2 separate regions of the Homo sapiens genome follow, and region 2 is linked to region 1. The links come from fine-mapping of genetic effects on gene expression. Tissue or cell type: whole blood. Region 1 holds a variant in brackets; the other region holds the start of a gene. All regions are shown on one strand. Distances are between the middles of the regions.

Region 1 (10,636 bases):
GCATGGGTGGGATGTGTTAAAAGCAATAGCTGGGCATGGTAACGTGCACCTGTAGTCTCAGCTACTTGGGAGGTGGAGGCAGGAGGATCCCATGAGCTAGGGAGTTGGAGTCTAACCTGGGCACCATAGGAAGATCAGGTCACTAAAATACATAAATAAATAAACAAATAAATGACATAGTGTGAAGCAAGTTCACTATGCACTGGTTACCAACTTCTCTGAGTCTAGTGAGACAGAACACCCAAGCACACAAGTTATACAAAGCGGGTTTATTATCTATAGATAGGCATCAAGGAATAACATAATCCTAGAATTAATTGCTAGCTAGCTGGTCCCCCATGGTTCAAGCAAGCTGCCAAGGAAAGATGGAATCTTGTCCCTGCATGCCCCACTTGTACCCCAGCTGAGGGACCCTGGAGATCCACCCACCCTGGGTTTTATACCCTGAGTCATGAGATCTTCTGGGCTAAAGTGTTGAAGGACATCCTGTTCTGGGGACATTGGAACTAAGTCCAGCTGTTTCAGCCAGGTCCCCTCTTATCTCAGGATGTTGCATTCCTAGCACACTGGTACAGTTATTCTTGAGAGCTACAAGCAAGAAAGAGCATAACTGAGTCAGTGCAAGGCCACTCAGAGAACTTTCCTGTACATAGTCCTTGCTATGGATATGTTTTCTCATTTTGCCACAAATAAATGATATGAAAAACTGATAATGTTCAGTTGCAGGAATGAAACATTAGTGTTAGATCTTGGTGGGGGGGGTAGGTGGGGTCAAATCAATCACAAAATGCTTGGAAGCTTTAGGGTCCAGTGAAGGCACCTGAGGTTCCAGGTACCTTTTAGAATGTGAACTTAGGTTCACATTGGACTAAAACTTTTTTAGGTATGATTTTAACATTAACCCACAGAAAATTTTAATCTGTTAAGTTTGGTTTAAATTTTATCTGGTCCAGGACGGGCACGGTGGTTCATGCCTGTAATCCCAGCACTTTGGGAGGCCAGGGCAGGCAGATCACCTGAGGTCAGGATTTTGAGACCAGCCTGGTCTTGGTAAAACCCTGTCTCTACTAAAAATACAATAATTAGCCAGACATGGTGGCACGTGCCTGTAATCCCAGCTACTAGAGAGGCTGGGGCAGGAGAAATGCTTGAACCTGGAAGGCGGCGGTTGCAGTGAGCCAAGATTGCCCTACTGCATTCCAGCCTGGGTGACAGAGCAAGACTCCATCTAAATAAACAAACAAATTTTGTCTGGTCCAATACATGAGTTTGCAATAGATTAAATGAAATATTGTAATGATGGTAATAGTTAACTTATTGATAACCTATTATATATACCTTGAATTTTAAATCCATATTTTATTTTGGGAGGTATAACACTGAATCCCTCAGGTACAGGCTTTGGACAGTATCTTAAAAGAGGTTTTTTTGTGGCCGGGCGCAGTGGCTCATGCCTGTAATCCTAGCACTTTGGGAGGTGAAGGCAGGCGGATCGTGAGGTCAGGAGTTCAAGACCAGCCTGCCCAACAGGTGAAAACCCATCTCTACTAAAAAATACAAAAAATTAGCCAGGCGTCGTGGCACTCGCCTGTAATCCCAGCTACTTGGGAGGCTGAGGCGGGAGACTCGCTTCAACCCAGGAGGCAGAGGTTGCAGTGATTTGAGATCGTGCCATTGCACTGTAGCCTGGGCGACAGAGCAAGACGCTGTCTTGGAAAAAAAAAGAGTTTTTTTGTTTTTCGGTCTTAATGTTTCTTTTAAGGGCTCACTAGTTGTGTGTGTGTGTCTTCTTAAGAAGTGAGTCATAATAAAACCAGGTATAGCTTCTGAATGGAGTGCTCTTTTAAACTTGGGATTTGTAAAATAATTTGATGCTTGTAGGATTCCCTGCTGACAGCTGGAGTTTTAAAAAGGGTACTTCAACAAGAGGAAGCCCCTGCAAACCCTTTCTGATAGAGAATAACTAGAGATATCTGGGAAACCCAAAGCAGAAGAGTCTAGCACATCATTTCTTTACTTCACTCACCGTCTTTGACTTTGGGGATTAATGTGAAACAGACAATAATCTAAATAGACTTGAATAAACTTCAGAAACATTACTTTATACAATGTAAGAAATTTACAAAAATAAAACCAATGAGTGAGTGAATGAATCAATCAATCAATAAAAAAATTGAACTAAGCCGCAAGATGGGGGATAAGATAACATTTGTATACAGCGGTTAGTATTTCTAGCTGCTTTTAGCTCTAGTATATTTTCTTTTGTTATCTCCCACATGGGACTCATGTACTCCCTGAGAAAAGCAAATCTTCCTCTCAACATTTGTGTTTTAAATAGACCACCATTTTTCTGGGACCCCAGGCTCAAAACATTAATTGATATTAGAGACCCTAAAGGCTGCTGACTGGAATATTAGACCATCTTAGATTTCTATTTTCACATTTCCATAGGCAATACTCCCCTTTAAGTCCATTTCCCATGTAATGTTGGATATAATACAGTAGTCTGCTAGCTGGTCTATCCAGCCTCATCGCATAGGGAGTAATCTTTGTAAAATTAAATTCAGCAAATATTTGTTGGCACCTGTTATACAAACACTGTGCTTGTTGCTATAGGGGATACAAATATGATTAGGACACAAACCCTGTTTTCAAGGAGCTTTACAGTCCAAGGGGGAATAAGATTGGCATAAACATAGCTGACATTCAAGGCACAAGGTGCTACAGGGCTGAACAAAATTATCATTTTGCTGCTCATGAAGTTATCATGATTCCCTATTACCTTTTGGATCAAGTGAAAAATTCTCATTCTTTGTAATTTGACACCTGCTGGCTGCTTACATTTACATTTTACTTCTATCCAACAAACCTCTACTCTGCCCCTGTCATCTGCCTAATACTCTCATGGACACAGCCATGCAGATATTCCTTCTTTCCTTTATTCATTCATTATTTCTGCAAATACTAACTGCTTGTCAGATACTGTGCTAGATGCTCTGGGGGAAACAAAAGTGAATCACTCACTGCCTTGAGCAACTCACTATCCATTGGAAGGGGATTAAACAAAGTTTTTAAGGAACAGTGTTTTGTAACAGAATGCACAAAGTGCTGAGGGAGGAGAGAGGAGCTGAAGGCCTCACAGAGGAAGTGAATCCTGCCAGAAGTTGGTTAGGTGTTCACCCGGGGGGAAGAGGGAGTGGGGGCCATTACAGGCACAGCAGTGTGTCCCAGTTCATGGAGGCAGAGCAGAATGTGGCTCAATCAGAGTGCTGACGGCAGGAATACAGGATGGGAACTAGTGGGCAAAAATAACATTGGGAAACAGAGCCAGATACCATGGGCCTTGACCCTATGCTAAGGAAGTTGTTCTTTATCTTTTGTGCCAGGCGATTCCATTTGAAGTTCAAACAGAGATGTGAACAGATGTAGGTCTTAGAATGCTCTAGCAGCAATGTGGAGTATTTGAGAGATATTGGAGGCAGACAGGTCAGCCAAAGGGGGAAGGAAACTAAAGTATAAATACACTGAGGAGACCCTAAAATTCTTTTCATAGTAACTTTCTCTAGCTCCTCCCTGCCTTGGTATCTATATTTGTCAGGACAGAATATATTGTGCTGCAGTAACAAACAGCCCCAGGATCTCAGGGGTTTGACAGAGTTTATTAAGGCAGGTAACTATTATCTGTGTGTGACTCAATGATAGAGGCCTCTTCAGTCTTGTGGTTTTGTCATCTCAACACAAACCACCACATAAGAGAACACTGAAGAGTCTTGCTTCAGCCCAAAAGTGACTCATGTTCCTTCCGCCCACAACTCTGCCTAACTCTAAGGTAGTAGAGAGGTATAATACTCTCATACGCCCAGAAGGAGAAGAAAGTTAGATATGGGTGAACTCTATAAACTGATGTCTTTCTTTTATCTTTTATAGCCTCAGGATTTCCATAAGTTACCCGAACCACTCTCCACTATGTAGTTATGCATTTTTTTTTAGAATTATCATCATAAGTTCTTTCTTATGGGTGTGTCTTGTTTCTCTAGCTACCTGAACCTGATTAGGTTGTATCTTCCATATCTTTTAGCTTTTAAAGTTCCTTACCAGTCCTACTCCTGAAGGAGAAGCCGGTAGGCTAAATAAGTGCCTGTGAATATACATAGGGTTGAATTTGGCAGTGTGGCTTTTTTCTAGCAGGGCCTGGGTGCTCTTTCACACACACTCAGGAATCATCTGATTTGTTTTTTCCTTTGTTTGCTATTTCATGTCCATCAAATTATTGGAATTTTATTTGAGTTAAAATGAATCAATAAGGATTGGTCTCTGTTTTACTGTAACGCCTTTAATGTCATTTCACCTGCGAGACACTCATTTCTCGTCTCAGCCTAGTGAAAATTGCACATTTACCCTCAACATGACATTGTCTTGGCACGTTTTAAAGGTGAACCTGAAAGTTTAAGGGCATCTAAATATGCCGTGCTCGCTTCAGTATCCAGTTGGCGAGGTTCAATAGAAAACAAATCAATTGTCATCCCCTGTTGAAAATAAGCACACAAAGATCTAGCTTAAAAAAAACGAACATTGTAAAATGAATTCATACGCAGTAGAAGGTGAGGTCGAGACCCGTGGAGAACTTTATCTGAGACAGTGTTTGTTTACCTAGACCGAACATTTCATCCTTTCTTGGTCAATCTCTTTGACTTTTTCTTTCCTACTAAGCCTGACTTTTAAAATAAGTGAGAGTCAGTGAAGCAAACCCCAGTTCCGATTAGTTCCCCATAGCATAAAGACAGAATAAGTGAGTATCTCTAACTTTTGAACATAATCCATAGGAAGTAGGTATGGCAATAATTATTTCTGGTCCAGCACAGAAAGCTAACAGATCAATTCACTCTTTCTCAAGGACCAATTCTATCACAAACATTTTCTTCCCAGAGAAAAAAAGAGAGAGAGAGAGAGATTCATTCAGTAGTAATAGGACTTGCTGTTTATCTGTCATCCCCAAAACTTGAAACAGTTACACTAGCACACCTCAGGGGGTTACTTGCTGGCTTCCACTTCTGCCTGAGAATTTGCTACTGTGAAATGTGTGTATAGTCTTGCTTTCTTTTTTACATTGAATTTGCATTTTAATGTTTTTCATTCTTCATAGCTAAGAGGGAACTTTCTTTTTTCTAGTCATTTCTACCTTGGGACTGCTACAAGTTGAAGTCTGGCTAGAATTGGACCATCTAGTGCAGACAAAAGTTGAGATGCAGAAAAGGGATTTGAATAGAAGTGCAAGGAAAAAGAACAGGATTAGGAATTCAAACCCTCCTCTTAGATTTGTATTTCCTACCTTTTTTCTTTTTTTAAAAAAATCTGCTTTGTTTTTTCATTTTTCTCTGAAATTTCTTAATTTGTATTTCCTACCTTTTTTTCTTTTTCTTTTTAAAATCTGCTTTGTTTTTTCATTTTTCTCTGAAATTTCTTCATTTTTCTTTCATCTCTCCATCTTCCAATTTTCTACTTCTTGTTTTTTGTGGTACCTTTATTTTTAAGATGTGTTTCTTTTTCTATAAACATCTGAATTGGGTAATTACTGTACCTGCTTGCAAATATTCCTCAACTCAGAAATCTAAAAAAAAAAAATACAAAATCATAACTATCACAGTTAACAGCTCCTCATCTTCCCTGTGCTCTACCTAGGTACCCTGAGTGTTAGATACAGTATCTCACTTAATTCTTCACCACCATCCTATTTAATTAATTTGCCTGAAGTCCTACAGCTGGAAAGTGGCAGAGCTGAGTTTCCTAGTGGTCTTACTCCCAGTGCCAGTGCTCTTAGAGTAAAATCTTGGGCAATTATACAGTTTGTCTCATTGGCTCACATATCTTAAACTCAGAAGAATTCTCAAGAGACCATCTGGTACCACTCTGGCTCTGATTAGTTCCTCTAATTCCAGTGTGCCAACATGCAAAACGTCTGTTGCAATGGATCCATTTAAATCTTCCATGTTAGTTCTGAATCAGATCCTCAAAGTTATTTGGCAGCTGTGCAGTAAGAGAAATTTCTCCATTGTTACCGTTGCTGGAAACTGGCTGCTTCTTATGCTGACTCTATTAGTAGT[G/A]GGAACAGCGGCTTGGAGAACCAGGCGCCCTCTCTCACTGTGGGCACCTACTCCATAATTCTCAGAAGACTCGAAACCATTAACCTTGGGAGAGAGCAGAGAGGGCTCCTGAGCTTAGCTTGATATAGATGCTAAAGGTGTTCAGCAGTTGCAGAGTCGCAGCTGTGTTACCTGTTTTGCACTAATTAGGAGTTACCATGAATCTGTTTGACAATTAAGGACAGAGTGAACTTTAAGGCAGATGGGTACCATGGGACAGTACACAGTTCTCAGGCAAGCAAAATGAAAGTTTGCACCAAGTCCTGTGTTTTTCCAAGACTGTAAAATTCTTTAATAATGTGGATTCCAGTGTATAAATAAAAGTCTGAGGTAGGTTTCTGCCACCTGAAAAGTGTCTCTCTCAGGGAGTAACTCTGCTCCAAATCCTTAGCAGTGCAAGTAGTTATTTGTGTGCAGCATCACCCACCAGATGAATAATAATTACTTCAACACTAGCCTTACCCAGTTCTTGGATTTCAGTTTGACTCTACCCAAAATGTATCTCATAGCATTCCAGCAGCTTAGCAACTAAATATTTATCTAGAATCAGAAAGCACAAAAAGTTCAATTTCTCTTAAAAGTCATACTTGTGAGCAGTATTTTAAGATAAAACTTTTGTAAGTTAAGTATCTTGTTCTTCTTTGCTCCCCTGACCACCCAACTAATTTGTACACATATGTATCTATTTCCCATCCCCTGGCTTTAGGTCAGGAGTTCTCTTAAATCATGTTCTTTTAGTAGGCTATAAAAATACTGGAGGGGAGATTTATCCAGGCTCTATTCTTTGAGGACCTGATGCTGAGTTTCAGGCAAGAGTGCCTTGTCACCGTCTAGAATCCGAGACGGATACAGCAGCTGGAGTGTGACTTATAGCTAGGATTCGGGAAGATGTGCAGAGTTCAGGGAAAACCTGCATGCCATGTGGTGTCGTTGAAAACTGTAAATATAATTAAGCCAGGTGGATTCCATGACAACAAAGAGGATTAGGGCCTGGGTGGATCTGGTAGACCATTGAGACCTATGTGAATAGATGTCAATTTATTTATATCCCCTCTCCCCAGGGGAAAAAAACAACAACAACATAGTTTGATGTCTAAATGAAGTAATCTCTGGAAAGAAAAGGGAGATTATATTTGTTAAACTGTATAAAAAAATCAGAAGATAATATGGCTTTGTTCACACTATTACATAAAGAAGATTAAAGACGAGGAACAAGCTGCTTAAACACTGTAAACTAATTAGTTCTACGAATTGTTTTCCCGAGGTTCATGAGATATGAAACATTGGCACCAGTGCGTGAAATACACTCTGCCTCAGTGCTCTTTTCAATTTATTTTTCTGTTAGTGTCATATGTATGTGTGTGTGTGTGTATGTGTATATATGTATGTATATATATATATATATATATATAGAGAGAGAGAGAGAGAGAGAGAGAGAGAGAGAGAGAGACAGAGACAGAGAGAGAGACAGAGAGAGAGAGAGAGAGCAGCCAAAAAGAAAGAGGTTACAGAGGGAGACCAAAGCCTGTGGGATGATTGAGGCTGACATTTTGTCACTTTAAGCCTGGTGCAGGGAGGGTCCTTCTCTAATACCCTGTATAAATACCAGCTTAATTTTCTGCCATCACAGGCTACATTGCGCAAATGATATCACGACAAGGCCCAGAGGAATTCCTGATGCTGCTCAGAGCACTCTGGCAACTCCCAGTGCAGCTAGGTCCAATCCAGCAGATGCGCCCTTAATTTGTTTCCCAAGATCTGGGTCTTATCTGAGAATAGGTGAGAAGGACTTGGAGCAAGAGTGGGGCCATGTGTCTGACAGACTTCTCATTCTCTAGTTTAAACAAGAACTATTTCCTTGTCTTAAAACAGACTATTTTCTAGATGGAGGACCAAGAAATCAGGTTTTTAGTCTTAAATAACAGATAAGTATATTTGCCTAATTTAAACAAAAATAGCATTTTTTTTTTTTTTGAGACAAGATCAACTCATTTTGTCACCCAGGCTGGAGTACAGTGGCACGACCTCGGCTCACTGCAACCTCTGTCTCCCAGGCTTAAGTGATTTTCCCACCTCAACCTCTCCAATAACTGGGACCACAGGCGCATGCTACCACACCTGGCTAATTTTTTGTATTTTTAGTAAGGGTTTCCCTATGTTGCCCAGGCTGGTCTTAAACTCCTGACCTCAAGTGATCCACCTGCCTCAGCATCCCAAAGTGCTGGGATTATAGGCATGAGCCACTACGCCCAGCCAGCATTTATTTTTATGTAGCACATTTTATCTTGTTCAGAAATATGTCTAACTTAGAAGTGTATGATTACACAAGACAGTGTTTGTTTTCTAATGTTTAAAGCTGTATTGTAATGAGACCTTATTGTAACCCTGACTCTCTATCATCCCTTTTCCATTTCTTTTCTTTTTTTTTTTTTTGAGATGGAGTCTCGCTCTACCACCCAGGCTGCAGTGCAATGGGGTGATCTCAGCTCACTGCAACCTCTGCCTCCCGGGTTCAAGTGATTCTCCTACTTCAGCATCCTGAGTAGCAGGGATTACAGGTGTGTGCCACCACACCCAACTAATTTGTGTTATCTTTAGCAGAGACACGGTTTCACCATGTTGGCCAGGCTGGTCTCTAACTCTGACCTTGTGATCCACCCACCTTGGCCTCCGAAAGTGCTGGGATTACAGGCATGAGCCACCATACCTGGCATTCTTTTCAGTTTCTTTTCCTGCATTTATTGTTCAAAAACAGAGGACATCCTCACTGCCAACCATCAGCATTCCCAGATCTCCTGGTCAGAATGAATCACTACTTTCTCTGTATTCTCAGAGAACTATGTATCAAAATACCATCCTTTATTTCATTTTAATAACAAACTTCTCAAAGGCACACTTGCTGTGATCTCCTCCTGCTGGATCCTGGCCCAGTGCGATGGAGAAGGCCATCTCAACAGTCACAGAAATGTCAAATCGGTTAAGTTCAGTTCTCATCCAGCCAGATTGTTTCCCCAACTCACTCCTGTATTCAGTGTTGTAGCCTCTCTTCTCTCTTCTTGAAACTCTCCTGAATACAGGAGAACCGAGGGTTTTTCTCATTTGCAGTTGACACTTCTCAGTCTGTATTTCTGGCTTTTGCCTGTCAGCAGGAGAGTCTAACTTTACCCTGTTGCTTGCTGCACACCTCTTAGTTTGTTTTGTTCACTCTTGTACCTCTGGATCCTAGAACAGTGCCTGCTATGTAATAGGAGCTCAGTAAATTTATGCTGAATGTCCCCTGCCAGCTCCTCAGGCTCCACAAGTCAGTGACCACATCTATTTCTCTTGTCTACCTAACATACTTCTTATTTATTCTGTCATATAAAGCTGTCTCTTTGTTCAGACCTGTTATTTCCAAGTTCTCCTTCTGCTCATTTCTAGGCAGTCACCCACCCTTTGAGACCTGTTTGTCCCCATTGCTCGTTCCTTCCACTTGCCTTCACTCCCAGTACAAGGCCTTTGGACAAGCCCTCATTTTGTCTTTCTGGGACCGCTGACTGCAAGAGTCTTGTATCTGTTTTCCCTGGCTTCTGTGTATCCCCAGCCCTGCTCATGGAGAGCTCTGTGAAGCAGTCTTTAAGGCTTTATTTGCTTTTTATACACTTAAGAAAGGAAGCCAGGTATTCACGTAATTGGTGTATTGGATACCTCCCCTCTCCACTAGAATGCTCCTGAGGACAGTGCCTGTGTCTTTAGTCTTGATCCATATAGTGCCTAGGCCAGCGCTTTACGTATAGCCTGGCGCATTAACATTTTTAGGAACTTGAACTCTACCCTTTTTTACACTCTACCAGATATTATAGTTGATGCTATTTCTTGTGCCAGTTAATAAACAATTTCTTAGAAGCAGAGAGCATCTTTGATACATCTTTGTACCCCTTCACAGGGCAAGAAGTTGTAGGTAGATACAAAATACAGTTGAATTTAATTTTAAATAAAAGTAATGACTATTGAGTGGATAAAAGTGTATACTGTTTTAGCAATACATTGATTTATGGAAAAATTGAATGTGAGTATTAGTATATATTTCATTAAGCATTCATATTAAAATAGTAATCTGTTGGCTTTTCCCATTTTAACTAGAGCTTTGTGAATATGAAGCATATTGGTGGGGCACTTGGGACATGGAAATATGTATTATTCTTATTTTCTCATGACTTGTTTTTACTTATATAAGCAGGTACTTAGAGGTTTTAGACATCACATTGTAGAATTAAATCAGTATGATTTCAATTGAGTTTTGGTATTTAATCTTTCTTTTTGAAAAAGGGTAATTTCGGAGAGTACGAGTATTGTACTCAGAATCTTCTTTCCTTTTTTAGTTTTTTAAAATATACTGGTGTGCATTTTTTCCATTACTTTAAGATAGTGTAGCAAATTAAGACCATGAGCTCTGGAGCCAGAGTCTGAGACTCAGTTTGTCAGTGTGATGGGACCAGTAATGATTCTTTTTCATC
Region 2 (9,318 bases), 180 kb before region 1:
AAACAAATCCATCTTTCCTGCAACAGAAAAAACACACACCCTAAAATGGGCCAAGAACTTGAACATCAGCAAGATTACAGACCAGGGAAAAAAGCAAATAACATTTTAACTGAAAATTTGATTTGAAAAATAAAAGCTTATCCATTGGTTCTCTCACTTCTTTCCCCACTTCTTTCTCACTGCTGGAACTTTGTGAAACATACAGATGATGGAGGAGCATTTGTGTCGACATTCTGAATTTCAATTTTTAATAATTAGGCAGATGGTTGGTTTGTGGTAAAGTCCATTATTGTACAGATTGCAATTTGTATCTAGTCACAAAATATAAGTTACTTTCCTAGGACGATTTCAGGATCTTTTCAGATAGGAAATATTACTGTAATTGAAAAACGACTTAACTTTTAGCCAAGAGCCCATAACATCCAGGTACCTCCGTGCCCCTATGAACTGTTTCTTTTCCTCTCGAGTCTTTATTGGTCATAGCCCTAGATTTCCCATCAAATTCAACCCGGCCTGAGCGGCAGGCAATGCCCCTGCTGGGTGCGGATTGCAGGCCCACCACTGGAGGGCGTCTGGACGCTTCTAAACAGCTCTGAAGCGCCTGGAAATCCCGTCTGAGGACTGGAAAGCGCAGGAGGGTGAACGTGAGATTTGATTTTATTGGGCTAATAAGTAAAAAGGAGTGCAGGCAGGTGTGGGAGCAAAAGTAAACTGCCTTTTTTCTCCTGGGGATCTGCCCTTCCCACTAAGGCAGAAAACTCCCTAGGGAACATGAGAAAAAATACCGCTGCTCCCGAGCCCGCGGACCCCTTAAGGGCGGGTCTCGGGGGCCTGTGGCCCCGCAGAGCAGGCGTCGGGCTCACTTCCTGGGCGCTGGACGACAGTGGGGACGCGTCCCGAGGCGCTGGGACAGTCTCGCTGCCAGGAGATCGCTCTTCAGTGGCGGCTGAAGACCAGGCTTGCAACCTGCCCTTGAAGTCCAGGACCGAGGGGCCTTTTCCAACAATAAAGGAACTGCTTTTCTTCCCACAGCCCCCGCCCCCGGCCCTCATTTCTTTCCGCACCGGGTTCGATAAAGGCGTTTATTCTTTGGGGAGTGGGCAGCAAATCACCCTCAAGGTTGAAATGGAAGAGGTGTGAGGTTATTTCTGAAGGGCTCGTCTGCCGCATTCATTTCCTCTCTGTGGAAGGTTCGCGCTGAATTGTAATCACTTTAAACTGTGATTTGCCTGATTTTTAAAAACGTGTTTTCAGAGCATCACTTTAAAGAAAACTTGCTTCCTGCCCAAGAATCTTTAAATCCCAAGTGGGAAGAGGAGGGCTGAAAGGCACAGGAGGGGTGCTCAGACTTCCAGATAACCCAGCGCCAGGCAGCGTGCGGCGTGGAGAGCGGGTGGAATGGACAGGAACGCGCACTCCCTGAGGCTCCGTTCCAGCCCATCCGTCACCTGCGGGGCACCAGAGACAGATGCCGGCTCTCCAGCCAAAGGGTGGGCACAGGTTCCTTTAAAATCGAAAGACCCTACTCCCAGGTAAAAAGATGTCAAATCATTCCTTAGCCCAGACGGAATTCAGCACCCAAAGGGTTACACGTGGCTGCCGGGCTCCGGCGCAGGAGAGGGCGCCTCGGCACTCCCAGTAATTCAATTAGTCAGGTTTCTAGAAGGTGGGGCGGGGGAGGGGGTAGGAGGCGTGGGGAAGGGAGATTAGGAAAACGCCTCTTTCTCGTGGAGCAAACCAATCCGGTTGGAGTAAAGAGAGAGGAAAAACCCCCAATCTGTAAGCAAACAGTAGGCCGTTCCCTGACTGGTTGCTCCAGCTATCCCCCCACCGCGCTCCCACCCTTCCCAAGTAAACTGCTTGGAAGGAGGAAAAAAAAAAAAAAAAAAAAAAAGACAGTCCACATGACCCGGGCCGCAGCGGCAGCAGCGCTGGCTGGGCGCGGGCTGGCGGCACCTCCCCCTGCTTCGTCCGGAGCTCACACCCGCGCTCGCGCCGCCCGCCCGTCCCGCGTCCCGCGCAACACGCCCGGGCGGAGCCCCATCCCCCCGCCCACGTCCACGTTCACGCGTGCGGCCTCGCGCTCTGCTGAGGCTGCTGCCACTGGGTCGCCGCCGCTGTCGGCTTTCCACGCAAGTCATTAACGAGGGGGCGTGCCCGAGGAGATTTTTTTTCCCATAAAGCATTTTTTCTCTCGCTCTCTTTTTTTCCCCCTCTTTTGCAAAACTGACTTTTACAAAACCCTTTCCACTTCTTGCCAGTCGTTTCAATTCCTCCTGGGCTGCTCGTGCTGCTGCTGCTGCACTCAAGTTTATTTATTTTCCCGCCTGGGTAGGGGTTTTAGGATTCGGTTTGTGGTTTTCACCTCTGTTGCTGCTGTGCCTAAGGAGGGAAAGAGGAGCAGCTGCGGGAGGATCGGGAAGGTTTTCTGATGTAGTCATCGGGGAGGTGCCACTCGCTCGTGCGCTTTTTTTTTTTCCTCTTTTCCCATTTCAAACTGATTGATGCATCTCTACAAGTTGCTAGGCTTGGACCCGCTGGAGTCGCAGGGACACTTCTGAGAGCTCACCCCGGGCTCTTGGCACCGCGTGTGGGGGCTCAGTCTCCCTCTCGGAAGGCGATCGGAGACTGACATCGGCCCATCCAGGAGTTGGAGGGATCCATTTGAAAGTGATTGTTTCCCCTCCCGCTCTCCAGCCGAACAGTTGGGTTGGCGTCGTCTTGCAGGTTTAGGAATCCCAGCTCTGCCAGGCCGGCTGGTCTTAACCTCTGCTCTTCATTCACTGTGGTGCACCCACACCCAGCCAAGGAAAGCACGCGCGAGAAATCCCCGAGGCTCGGCCAGCCCCCGGGGTGCCCTCTTCCGCTACCGCCGCGTTCCGACTCTGCTGGGGGACCTGCCGGAAGACGCGAAGAGCCAAACTTTTCTTTGAGGTTTTCGAGGCAAGACCGCTTCGAAAGCCGGCGCAGCTGCCGCTTAACCAGTTCCAGGACACCGACAAGGCTGGGTTGCGGCTCCGGATCCCCACCCTTCTCGGCGCACCGCCCGGTACCGCAGCACTTACGACTCCTCTGAGATTTCTGGGGGTCGCCCCGCTAAGGCACAGAGGAGGCTGAGGAAAGGGGTTCTCAGACTCCCGGGACCACAAGCGCGAAGCCCTCTATCAGCACGTCGCCCTTCTCCTGCAGTTTCCCACCGGCCGCCAAAGTAACTTGGAGCGAAGCGTGGCGCAGTGCGAGGGCCCCGGGCGGTGGCGGAGCCGTGCGTAGCCTGCTGCGCCGACGCTGAGCCGGGCCCGGCGGGCCGGTGTATGTCTCCCCGCGGCTGCGGCGCGCAACTCCCGGTGACTGTGCAGCGCGCGCCGCCGCCTGCCCCGACCCGCGCTGCAGCCGCCCGGCCCGGCGCGCACCTCCCTCTCCCGGGGTGACCGGCCTGCCGCCGCCGCCCGAGACACAGCTTGGCACCTCTTCCCCCGCCCTCGCCGCCGCCACCACACACACGCACGCTTCTCTCCATCTTGTGATTCCTTTTTCCTCCTGAACCCTCCAGTGGGGGTGCGAGTTTGTCTTTATCACCCCCCATCCCACCGCCTTCTTTTCTTCTCGCTCTCCTACCCCTCCCCAGCTTGGTGGGCGCCTCTTTCCTTTCTCGCCCACTTTCATTTTTATTTATTCATATTTATTTGGCGCCCGCTCTCTCTCTGTCCCTTTGCCTGCCTCCCTCCCTCCGGATCCCCGCTCTCTCCCCGGAGTGGCGCGTCGGGGGCTCCGCCGCTGGCCAGGCGTGATGTTGCACGTGGAGATGTTGACGCTGGTGTTTCTGGTGCTCTGGATGTGTGTGTTCAGCCAGGACCCGGGCTCCAAGGCCGTCGCCGACCGCTACGCTGTCTACTGGAACAGCAGCAACCCCAGGTAAGCCGATAACAGGCGGAGAGCCAGGGCTACCCGGGCCTCGGGGCCCTGCGGAAGGAGCGGCGGCGGGGATCGGCGCGCACCAACCGCTGGCGGCGCGCACCCTCGGAGCCTGCGTCGCCCGGGCGCTGATGGCTTGAGGCGTCGGCGGGAAGCGCTCGCGTCGCGCCCCTCTTTGTTAAGCCGCCGCGGAAAGGCCAGGTACCCCTGGGAGTCCCCGGGGCTGCCTAGACCAACTGCTTCTGCGGGGCGCCGGGAGACTCGGAAAAGGGCGGGAGCCGGGGAGTAGGGACTTCTCTGCTTCCCAGCCCCGGCATCTGGCTGGCATCCGGTTCCCGGCGCGGGGAGCCCCCAGTGTGCGCAGCCGGGAGCTCCTTCCTGGAGCGTGGGTCCGCAGGGACTGCGGAGAGAACCCGCCAAACATCCCCCAAAGTTTTTTTTTTTTTTTTTTTTTTTTTAATTTTAATTTTCCCTTCTCTTTTCCCGGTGCGCGCAGAGAGAGCGCACGGGCTGGGGGAAGTGAGGGGGGCTGGGAAGCGGAAGCTTTAGGTTTTTATTTTCCTCTTCAACTGCGAGGAAATCATTCGGCCCCTGAGTCAGTCTGGGCCCGGCGCGCCTGGCAGTGGAGAGGATTCTCCCATCTTCTCCATCCCTCCACCCACCCCAGTGGGTTCAAGGTGCCAGAAAGTTTGATCTAATGCCGGGTTACGTCATGTGTGCAGAACAAGCTGCCAGAGTTGGCCGAGCCAGGAGGTGGGAGCCCTTCGCCCGCGGCCTGGCGATGTGCTGCCGGAGGAACGCGCGCGATTACCTGGAACCGATTTGTAGGCGTCCCGAAGCCCGCCGGGTATGCGGGAGACTAGAGGTGGGCGCCGGGGGCGGTCCTAGTGCGCGTGCTGGACACCGGCCAGTCGCAGACGTCCCGTGTTTTCGGACCCTGGAAGTGGAGTGGGGAGGTTATCCAGAGTGCCCGGCGGGGTCCTCCGGGTCTGGAGCAGTTCCGAACCTTTATTGCTTCCCGGCCTGTGCACAGAAGTCGGCCCCGCTAGGCCCATACCGCACTGCTTTCTCTGGGACAGAGGCTAGCTTCCAGCTGTGTGCCGGTCTCGGTGCCCTCCTAGGTGCTATTTATTAATAGTACCGATTGCATCTAAAGTCACAGGTTTTTCACTGGGCTGGAGTGGAAGTTGGGAAGAGAGAGGCGGGAGGCCGAGGGGTTAGCCTAAGAGTTGGTGCGCGCCCCGGGCTCCAGGAGAGAGGGTATCGGTGGGCGCCTCCAGTTTTTTCTATCTCCTGCGGGCCCTCTCCGCCTGCCTCCAGCCTCCCCTCAGCATGCAGGCAAGAGAGGGATTCCCTGCTTGAATAATGTCAGCGCAGATGAAGATGGGAAGATTTCCCCACAAGCAGTCCGCCGGTTACAGAACCAGGAGGGAGTTCCCCCTATCCCGCTAGTCCAAGATAGTCTTACTCAGGTAGCCGCCCAAGTCCTAAATGAACCGCTGAACAGGAGTGGAGATATTCCTGAAAGTTTGGTTCAAAAAACAAGAGTCTCCTGGAGGTGGGTGGTGGAATGGGAAGCGATTTCTTCTTTGACATGCCACTTACCACTATTAGGAAAAGAGAAAAAGAAGCCATCCTGCCAGAGGAGAGATGCCTTTTATTAAAGCTGACAAGACAAATAGAGCAAGCTTTCCAGTTGTGATGGTGTTAAAAGCCAGTCTCATTATGTTGGTTAGTTTTTTTTCCCCGTTTGTGCTTTATTAGGCAGCATATACGAAGCAGAAATTTGTATCTCTGAACTTTAGCACCTTATTAAATAAAGCAACACTGAAATAGTTTCTTTGAATTTGGGATATCTTGCTCTCGGTTGTCTTTTCTTTCCCACACCAAGCTCCACATTGTGATCTTTTTCTCATGGCATTCATTTATTTGGATACTTGGGTGTTCCAGTCTTCCTGGGTTAAAACGGAAAGAACCAGCAACACCCCTACTTTAACCCCCCTTCTTAACCTGTCAAGCTAGTCTGAGTTAGTTTGAGGACATTTTATCTTAGGTTATCTCTGTTTTGTGCTTTTGATACTGTTGTTTGGTTTGAGATTAGCACATTGATTTTTGTCACAGGTCATGTTTTTTAATAGATCTGCCCTGCCTGCAGAAAACTCTTCTGCTCAGGATGCCATGGAGGCTTTGAACCTGCCCAGACAAAGTTAATCTGCAGAATTTTAAAATACCAAGAGTATTTCTAAATCGGTATTCTAACTTCAGGTTTGTAGAATTACCTTTCTATTTGATCATTATCAGTTTGATAATGGCCAAAAGAAAGAATGATGTACCCCTCTTAACCCCAAGAGATACAGCCCTAACACTTATTATTCTTAGGAATTTATGGACACATTTATCTTGGTATGTTATCACAGTTAAAAACTTACTTTAAAAACAATATTTTAAAAGTAGGCAGTTTTATCTCTGAAGTGTTGAATAAGATGTTGCTCTTTTGATGCATTAAGAAAAGTCAACTTGGATATAAGAGGCCACATGCCAAATAAGTATTTTAAAAATAAAAACTAACAGTTTTCCACAAACAATAGTAAGAAAATATTTCAGAAAATTTCCACGGGTTTAGTAAATTTTATAAATTCACTGTTGTGCAATTCCTTTTCCTGTATGTTATTTCATAAAGTAAGCTAGCCATGCTTTGTGTCTTTATATAGAACCTATCTGTTAAAATTTTGCTAAACTAGTAAGACTTCAATCTTTTGAAAAAAGAATAGAGGACTTTAATTGCAACTTAAATAATTTTTTTTATTTTTCCCTCAGAATATAATATGTTCAGTGGGCACGTTAAACTGATGATAATGTACACTGTGTCTAAACGAAGTAAATCTACTTTAGCTTATACTAACAGATTCAATTTGAAATTATGTTTAGGTAAAATCAGAATTAAATGTATCTTGATCACAGGGATTAAGTACAGTATCTTACTGTGTAACTTGTGTCACTTGTGTATCTGGTAGGAGTTTATCTTCTACATGGAGTTTCATTACTGCCTCTCCATTGATAAATGAGCATCTATAGATGTAGTTTCACGGGAAAAAATATTAAATTTATTTGCTGTCAGAATAGTTTTACTGTTACAATCTATGTACCCAGGTATTCACTTCTGAGAAGTGGATACTGAGTTTTCAAATGCTGATAACTTTTAGTTGGTAGTATTTATTGGATAGGGGACCAAACTGATTTTTTTATGTGTTGAATTGGCACAAATTTGTGAAATAGCCACTCAGAACTATCAGTTTGAATAGAAATATATGATAACATTTGCCTAAATAGATCTTCTATATTTCCAAAATTTGAAAACTTGTATAAGTTTTACCTAAAAGTGTAAATAATCAAATCATCCTTTTAATATTATTCTGAATTCTAAACTGGAATGTCACCAAGTAACTTTGAGTAATGAAAATCCACATCAAGAAGAATATAACTATTTGTCCTTAATTTCTTTAAGAATGTAAAAAGCTTTTAAATAAAGTTAAAAAGACTTCCAGTAATAAAAGTTTATTTACATTCTCCTTTAGTAGCTATGCTTATAAAGAGAGTCATAATACTAAGAACATGCCTCTTCATCTGAAGTATGCCATAAGCAGTTTGGTGCTTCTAATAAGAATATACTTTTAAACATCATGTGCGTATTCTAAGTTCTTCTTGGATTATTTTGACTATTTGCTGAAATGATATTAGGGTAATTAAACATATCTCCTACTGGTTGGCATTATTGATGCAATAGTCAAATAATACAGCAGCAAATATGACCAACACACTTTTAGGAATACCAGTCGTCCTCAACCTGGTGCTTTGCTTCTGTTAAGGTTTGAGTATCATCAATTTAAAAGGTTATACTCTTAAGAGGAAAATATCTGTGTAAGTCATGAAGGATTTACTAAACTTTAACCTAATCATGTTTTCTTTGGACTTTTTCAATTCTTGTAGGGACTTGTATATTAAACATTTCATATTAGAGTAGCAGGTAATTGACACCTTTTAGTTTTGTTAACACGTAATCTTGGAGTTGTGAAAGTAATGTGAATTCTAGGTCAACACTCCCAAGTCCTCTGGCAGTACAGGTCAAATGTATGTGGCTAAGAAGAGAGAAGTAGTAACATTTTTTTTTTCCTAATCATATTCCCTTGAGTATTTTTCTTCTTTCAAAATTTAGTTGCTCCATTTAAAAAAAATCTGAGCCATCATCATTTTGACATATGTATACCAGTATGCCGGCACTGTGACCTTTTCACTGACAAGTAAATGAAATCAGCATGGTTTAAATCTAAGAATTTGTTGTGAGTAAAGATTGAAAGTTTATCTTGGTCTTGAATGAGTTTCATCACAAAACTTAGATTGTCCTTACTTTTGAAATTTTAAATATTTTAAGTAATATTTTGTATGTTAGAAACATAAATGTTTTTCAAGTAAAAGGCATTAACTTTAAGCCTCAGTGTAACGTATCACATTATTAGATGTATTGGTAGTAATTTTGTTACTCTGAAATTTAGATCAGAATTTATGCAAGTACCAGGCTAAAAATAAGGCAGTATGATTGAGGTTTATAACCCATGTTTTTATGCTTATATGTTTATAAGAGACGTGAATTGACCCTCCCCCCTTTTTAATCTAGAAATTTGTAAAAGAGAAGTATGATTCCTGTTTTTTGGTGAGTTTTCCATAGAATTTTGAAAAGCAGAGTTAGCTACTAAGATATGTTCTACCTATTTGATTCATTATTTTATATATTCACAATAAACTATCAGAAATACTCAACTGTCTGATTTTTAGATGATAGGAACATTAGAGCTATTTGAGGCAGATTTGGCTATACAGTCTAATTTGGCATTTTCAGGGTAAGACCAAGGTCAGTAAACTACTAGTGATTAAAAGTATCAGAGTCTTCAGTAGTTTATTACTCTCTGTTAGGTGATTTTAGTGGTAATAACTAAACCATCAGCTCACTGAACTAATATCTTGTTGTCATGTGTGTTGTGGCTGACAGTAGCTTCAGAAGCTTCCACCTTTGAAGGCTGAGGATCAGGTTTGGAGGGAACACTTAGTTACTTGGGTGCAAATTAACCTTGTGAATTTCTTGCCATTTAATCTTGCAGAATACCTTCTGAACAGGCATTTCACTGCATTCTGTCCACTGGCCTGGTTTCCTGTTGGATAAGGACATAAAGATGGGCGCCTCCTTTTCTCCCCTGTTGCTATGAACCAAGCAAGCTACCAGCTTCACGCTGGGCCAAGAAAATGAATGAATACAATTAGTCCTTCAGGAGTTCTGGCCTTTGCTAGCTTGGGATAAGTATATGCCAGAAAATTTACCTTTGAGAGAGAGAAAGCATTAAAATAAAAATGAAC

Evidence for each region. PIP is the estimated chance that this variant, and not a neighbour inherited with it, causes the effect.
Region 2: EFNA5 starts here. The variant in region 1 is fine-mapped to the expression of EFNA5 in whole blood (TOPMed, PIP 0.95).

The regions. Positions count from the first base shown.
Region 1 is chr5:107,479,787-107,490,422 of GRCh38, reverse strand. The region is part of intron 1 of EFNA5 (ephrin A5); the gene reads left to right. Among named protein-coding and RNA genes, the nearest start is that of EFNA5, 190 kb to the left of the region's middle. The variant G/A (reference allele first, on the strand shown) is at 6,102.
Region 2 is chr5:107,665,083-107,674,400 of GRCh38, reverse strand. EFNA5 (ephrin A5) reads left to right here and starts at 3,464. Exons shown (of 5, transcript NM_001962.3): 1 at 3,464-3,912. The coding sequence starts at 3,788. RefSeq lists silencers at 501-580, 1,952-2,021, 3,382-3,431, 4,002-4,071 and enhancers at 661-710, 612-1,111, 2,852-2,991, 3,702-3,831, 4,232-4,311.